Linked DNA regions of Homo sapiens: region 1 is linked to region 2. The links come from fine-mapping of genetic effects on gene expression. Tissue or cell type: transverse colon. Region 2 holds a variant in brackets; the other region holds the start of a gene. All regions are shown on one strand. Distances are from middle to middle.

Region 1 (2,913 bases), 31 kb before region 2:
TGGGACTAAAAGTGCATGCCACTGTACCTGGCTCTGTAAGATTATTTTTTAGTGACTGTTTACTCCACTAGAATGTAAACTTCTTGAGGGCAGGGGCTTTATTTGTTGCCATATCCCCAGTACTTTATTCCTAGTGCCCAGTATATAGTTAAGTGTTTAATAAATACTTGAATGCTTACTACTTTACACCCACCAGATGGACAAGCATGAAGTCTGAGAATACCAAGTGCTGACAAGCACGTAAAGCAAGAGGATTCTTGTATCCCGCTGAGAGCGAAAATTAGTGCATGTGCTTTAAAGAGCAGTGAGATAACTCAAATATGGATATTCTAGCACCAACCATTTTCATTCCTGACACATATTCAATACACTTTCGCACAGGTGCTTTAGGAGAAAGGTACAAGAATTTTATTGTAGCATTCTTTGTATTATATTGCACAAAAGCACTATACAACATTGTACAAAAGCATTGTAGAATTTGGTGTATTTCTCTCTCTCTCCCTCTCTCCACACACGTATCACAGACATTTTTTTTTATTCTGAATCATTTGGGAATAAGTTCACGACATCATGACCAAATAAGAAAGCTGCAGGATTGACATTTACAAAATATTCAAAATATGCAAAACGGTACTATAATATTTATAAATACATACATATATAACAAGCAGAAAGATAGGAATAGGAATAATAAACACTAAATTCAGGCAAGTGGCCGTCTTGGGGACGCAAAAGGAAATGTGTTCAGGAATGAATACCTGGAAGCCTCGCTATCTGGAATATTTTTCTTAAGCTGTGTTGAGGGTACATATTTGTTATTGGCTGTACCTTTTTTGCAAGACATATATTTCAAAATTTTTAAAAGCATTCATTTATTCCTATTTTAATGAGAGTTTTTAAAAATCAGGAATGGGCTGGGTGCAGTGGCTCATGCGTGTAATCCCGACCCTTTGGGAGGCCGAGGTGGGTGGATCACCTGAGGTCAGGAGTTCGAGACCAGCCTGGCCAACAAGGTGAAAACCCATCTCTACTAAAAACACAAAAATTAGCAGGGCGTGGGGGCGCTCCCCTGTAATCCCAGCTACTCGGGAGGCTGAGGCAGAATCGCTTGAACCCAGGAGGCGAAGGTTGCAGTAAATCGAGATCGCGCCACTGCGCTGCAGCCTGGGCGACAGAGTGAGACTCCATCTCAAAAACAGAAAAGAGAAAAGAAAGGGAAAAAAGGGAAGAAAGAAAGGAAGAAAGCAAGCAAGCTCAAGGGTTCTCGGGGTGGGCCATCCCCGAGGCCATCCGCAGATTTTCTCGCACTCTTTGCTCCACCCCCACGTGCAACAAGGACAACCGGCTGCCGCCTCCAGCTTCCAGCAGGGCTAGAAGATGCGCTGCCCGGGGCGGCCAGAGCCCTGCAGAACAAACCGCCGCACGGAATTAGGGGCCGCCGTCCGCGCCTGCCAGGCTTGGAAGCGGACTCGCCCCCAGGGCCACCGCCCTAGGAAACCTCCCGTCGGAAGCCTCCCAAGCAAGCCGCTCACCCGCGGCTCCCGCGCGAGGCGGCGTGGGCGTGGGCGCGGCCCTGGCGCGGCGGCGCGCGCGGGGTGAAGGGAGCCCGGCGCGCTGGCTGCGGCGACGGCGGCCGTTGCTGCGCCGGGTACTGGGGTCGCTGCCTGAGGCGCAGGCGCCGTGGACTCCACCCGCCCCGGGGCCTGGGCTCGCTGTGGACTCGTCATGGCGACCGAGCAGAGGCCTTTCCACCTGGTGGTGTTCGGCGCGTCTGGCTTCACCGGCCAGTTCGTGACCGAGGAGGTGGCCCGGGAGCAGGTGGACCCGGAGCGGAGCTCCCGCCTGCCCTGGGCCGTGGCGGGCCGCTCCCGGGAGAAGCTGCAGCGGGTGCTGGAGAAGGCGGCCCTGAAGCTGGGTACAGCGGCGGGGCGGGACGGGGCTGCGCGGGCGGCTGGGCCGGGGACCCCGCATCGCCCCAAACGAGCGTTTCTCCCGCAGGGATGCGCCCTACGTGTCCCCGAGCCCTGCGTGAGGACAAGAAGAGGAGAGGGAGAGATGTTTCAAATACTGCCATAGCTTTGTCCCACCTCCTTAACTATATGTGTGTGTGCGCGTGCGTGTATAATATACACACACATTTTTTTTTCTTTCCTTCTCCTCTTTCCCGCTTTTTGCATTTCTGCCTCAGTTTGGGGAGCTCCCCTGGCGAAATGGTCAAGAACTTGAGTTGTCCCTCTCTCTGCTTCATCCTGCCCCGCAGCGGGGGCACCTGTTGAATCTGCGGGTTTCTAGATGTTTGGTCGGAGAGGAGAGGAGGGCTTTGGTCTCTTGGAGATCGGAGTCTCCCTTTGCCTCGTGTTTTGAGGACGGGAGAGCAAGCTTACGAGTTGTACTGACAGTGTCTTTGTGGCTATTCTGTTTTAGTTTCTTGTTTTGTGTGTAAGAATACTCCAGCAGTCTTCCTCTTCAGAGAATAAAAAGTGTGTATTTCTGGTTTAGACGCTTACGTATTCTCTAAGCATTCAGGTAGCATGTATTTATTGATAATCTAAGCATTCAGGTAGCATATATTTATTGATAATCTAAGCATTCAGGTAGCATATATTTATTGATTCTCTAAGCATTGAAGGAGCATATATTTATTGAGTGACGTTGTCCATGCTAAGACCTGTCCCGAGTCTGGGGTGCAGGATGGGACAGAGAGGAGACAGACACACGGATCCTGCTGCCTTCATGGCTGGGGAGACATCTGACTTACGACTCCGTAGCCTTTAAATTTGGCTATTAACTCCCGTAGATTTCCCTTATACAGACACCCATTAGAGTTCTGGAAATACTACATTCTTTCTGTTTAATCTACTTTCATACAATGCCCTGCTCGGAGTGCTTTTGTTCGTGGTTATGTACAGAAGA
Region 2 (2,913 bases):
CTCCTCGCATTCACACACACTTTCAACCCCCGCAGAGTATCCCGACCACCGAGGAAACGCTTGGCTGCTCCTGTGGTGTTTCTTACCTTGGTCTGTGCACAGAGTTACCTGGTCGCTGCGGTGTGTGATGATCCCTTTCCCCAGGTCGCCAGCCAGTTTCTTTCTGCATTGCTGAGAGTCCGGGTTTATTTGTCACACCCGGTGGGTCTTGATTCCTTACCCCTGAGGCCACTGCAACAAGGCAGCGGGGCATGCCTCCTCATGGGAGAGGACCAGACCCTTCACCAAAGGAGAATGGGAATCCCGGGCGGGCCCCCAAATTTGTTAGAAGTAAATTTTCAGTGCCGCAAAAGAAATAGCACTTGAACATAAATTTTTTCAACTAGGCTGTAGCAGGATAAGCTGCAGACAAAACCCCTCAGACACCAAGTTAAAGAAGGAAGGGCTTTATTCGGCTGGGAGCTTCGGCAAGACTCACGTCTCCAGCAGTCGAGCTCCGCGAGTGAGCAATTCCTGTCCCTTTTAAGGGCTTACAACTCTAAGGGGGTCCGTGTGAGAGGGTCGTGATCCACTGAGCAGACATGTGTCCGTTTCACCTAGGTTATCTAATTTGTTGGCATACACTTTTCATAGTATTCCTTTATACTCCTTTTTATTTCTATAAGGTTGGTAATAATGTTCCCTCTTTTATTCCTGATTTTAGTAGTTTGGGTTTTCTTTCTCTTTTTTTTGGTCTGTCTAGCCAAAATGTGTCAGTTTTGTTGACCTCTTCAAAGAACCAACTTTTAGTTTTGTTGATTTTTTCTATTCTGTTTCATTTATTTCCACAATAGTTTTTATTGTTCCTGGATATGAAATTAATATAAAAATCAGCTGTATTTCTGTATGCCAGCTACAGTTAGAAGGTGATTATTTTTGTAAAAAACACCATTTATGATAGCATTAAATAAATCAAGTACCTAAGAGTAAGTAATAGAAAGTGTACAAGATTTCTTTGAAGAAAACTGTAAACCTTTATTGAGGGACCATAAAGAAGACATAAATTGAAGGATCCAGCGTATTCATGGATTAAAATATGAATCCATTTTGTAGTTAATTTTCTTCAAATTTGTTTATAATCTCATGCAATTCCCATCAAAATCACAAACAGGTTTTTTTGTTTGTTTTGTTTCGATGTGCATCTGGACAAGCTGTTTCTAAAATGTATGTGGAAACTCAAAGGGCTGAGAACAGGCAAGATATTCTTGAAAGAGAATAAGGCAGAAAGACACTCTTGGAGATCAAGACCTGTTATTAAGTCAGCATAAACCCTTGACATATGGTAAAGGGGCTTTTCCTATCATTTTTCTTTTC[T/C]TTTTACAAATCCACTTTTACTGGTATTTATTTACTTTTCATTAGTTCAAATCCTTGAGGAGTACAGCATCACAGAGCCGCCGTGACTAGTGGCCTAAGCAGGACGGCTGCTTTGGAATTAGGCACACATTGTGCCACTGTTTCCGTGGGCACACGTTACCTTTCTCCACCTTACTCTGGTTTTGTTTGGTTTGCTGCCAGGAGTCAGTATTATTCTTTGTACACATAAGCGCATTTCCTGCCCAAATCAAATCTCATTTTATGTCAGCCATAAATACCTTCAGTTTTAAGAAGAGCTGTGTCCTCCCTTTGGTTCTGGAGATCCTGCTGACGGCAAAAACGGCCTTGGACCACAGCTTTCCAGGCATACTTGTCATTTAGAATTCCTCCTCCCAGCAGGCCTCCGGGCTTCAAGTTGGCAGGAACAGCAAGGGGGCTTTTCGGTAGATGCTGCTGGGACAATTGAGTATCTACTTGGAGAAAAAATGGAATTGGATTCATACTTTTGCACCCCGTACCAAAATCAAGTTTAGATGGATTGTGGATGCCCTCACGGTTGGGAATGGCTTTTACAAAAAGACAAAGAGGCATTAAATGTAATGAAAAAGTGATACGTTTGTGTACTTTTAAAATTGAGAATGTTTCCCAAAACACACGATTAAGAAAGTCAAAAGGCTAGCTGCAATGTAGGAGTTACTTACAACACGTGGTAAATCCTGACATCACAATTTTGAGCATAAGAAGCCAAACACTCAGTAATAAATCTTGCTTGATTGCATTTCTGTAGAGCTTAGAAACAGGCAAAACTAATTGTACTGTTTAGGGATGAATTCTTAGGTGATTAAACTCTAAAGAAAAGAATTTTTCTTGATTACTGTAAAGGCAGGACGGAAGGAGGGCCTTCTTAGTTGCTGGTTACCTGTAGTTCTTGACCTGGATGTTTACATGTACGTTGGCTTCATAACATACATGAATATACAATTTAATAAAATTGTATTAGGTACGTCTCTATATTTTTCTGTGAAACGCAAATAGTTTTTTAAATTGAATGTAATTTTTTCCTTTTCAATGGCTTAGTTGTATAAGAAAATATGTTTAGATTTTTAAAAAGCTGTTTTCTCCTGGTGTTTGGAATCTTTACATTTGTAGAGATTCACATAGGCCCTTTTGGCTAGGCTCAGATTGAGTAGATAACAAATCAAACCTTTAAGACTTTAGTTCTGTTGTAGTTTTAATAAAACAGAAGAAATAAATCTGTACCAGAATGAAAGTTAGATTTGGTATCTCTGCTTTTCAGTATCATCAAAGCTGAGATAGGAAAACCTGAATCTTTGGATGGTTTTATTGTTTCTCTTATTTTGTTTATTAACAATGAAAGGTACCTTCATATCTGCCTCCCACATATCCCTCTTTGAAAATCTTGTGACAGAATTAGTTTTGAATCTTTCTGAATTACTCTGTTGACCTAAACAATGTAAACAACATAGAAGGAAGGACATAATACAATTATGTACAATCAATATAATAAATGAAGTTTATTCCTGTAATAGAGAATTAAAA

Which allele goes with the higher level. Alleles are on the strand shown, and positions count from the first base shown. SD is a standard deviation of normalised expression in the study named.
With allele T in place of C in region 2, the expression in transverse colon of the gene that starts at base 1,712 in region 1 is lower (moderate effect, 0.60 SD a copy in GTEx).

Evidence for each region.
Region 1: it holds the start of SCCPDH, and the variant in region 2 is fine-mapped to the expression of SCCPDH in transverse colon (GTEx, PIP 0.99).

The regions. Positions count from the first base shown.
Region 1 is chr1:246,722,698-246,725,610 of GRCh38, forward strand. SCCPDH (saccharopine dehydrogenase (putative)) reads left to right here and starts at 1,712. Exons shown (of 12, transcript NM_016002.3): 1 at 1,712-1,915. The coding sequence starts at 1,726. RefSeq lists an enhancer at 1,146-1,305 and silencers at 1,516-1,645, 1,686-1,755, 1,856-2,065.
Region 2 is chr1:246,754,112-246,757,024 of GRCh38, forward strand. The region is part of intron 5 of SCCPDH (saccharopine dehydrogenase (putative)); the gene reads left to right. It also overlaps the pseudogene RPL35AP6. Among named protein-coding and RNA genes, the nearest start is that of SCCPDH, 31 kb to the left of the region's middle. RefSeq lists a silencer at 1-61. The variant T/C (reference allele first, on the strand shown) is at 1,354.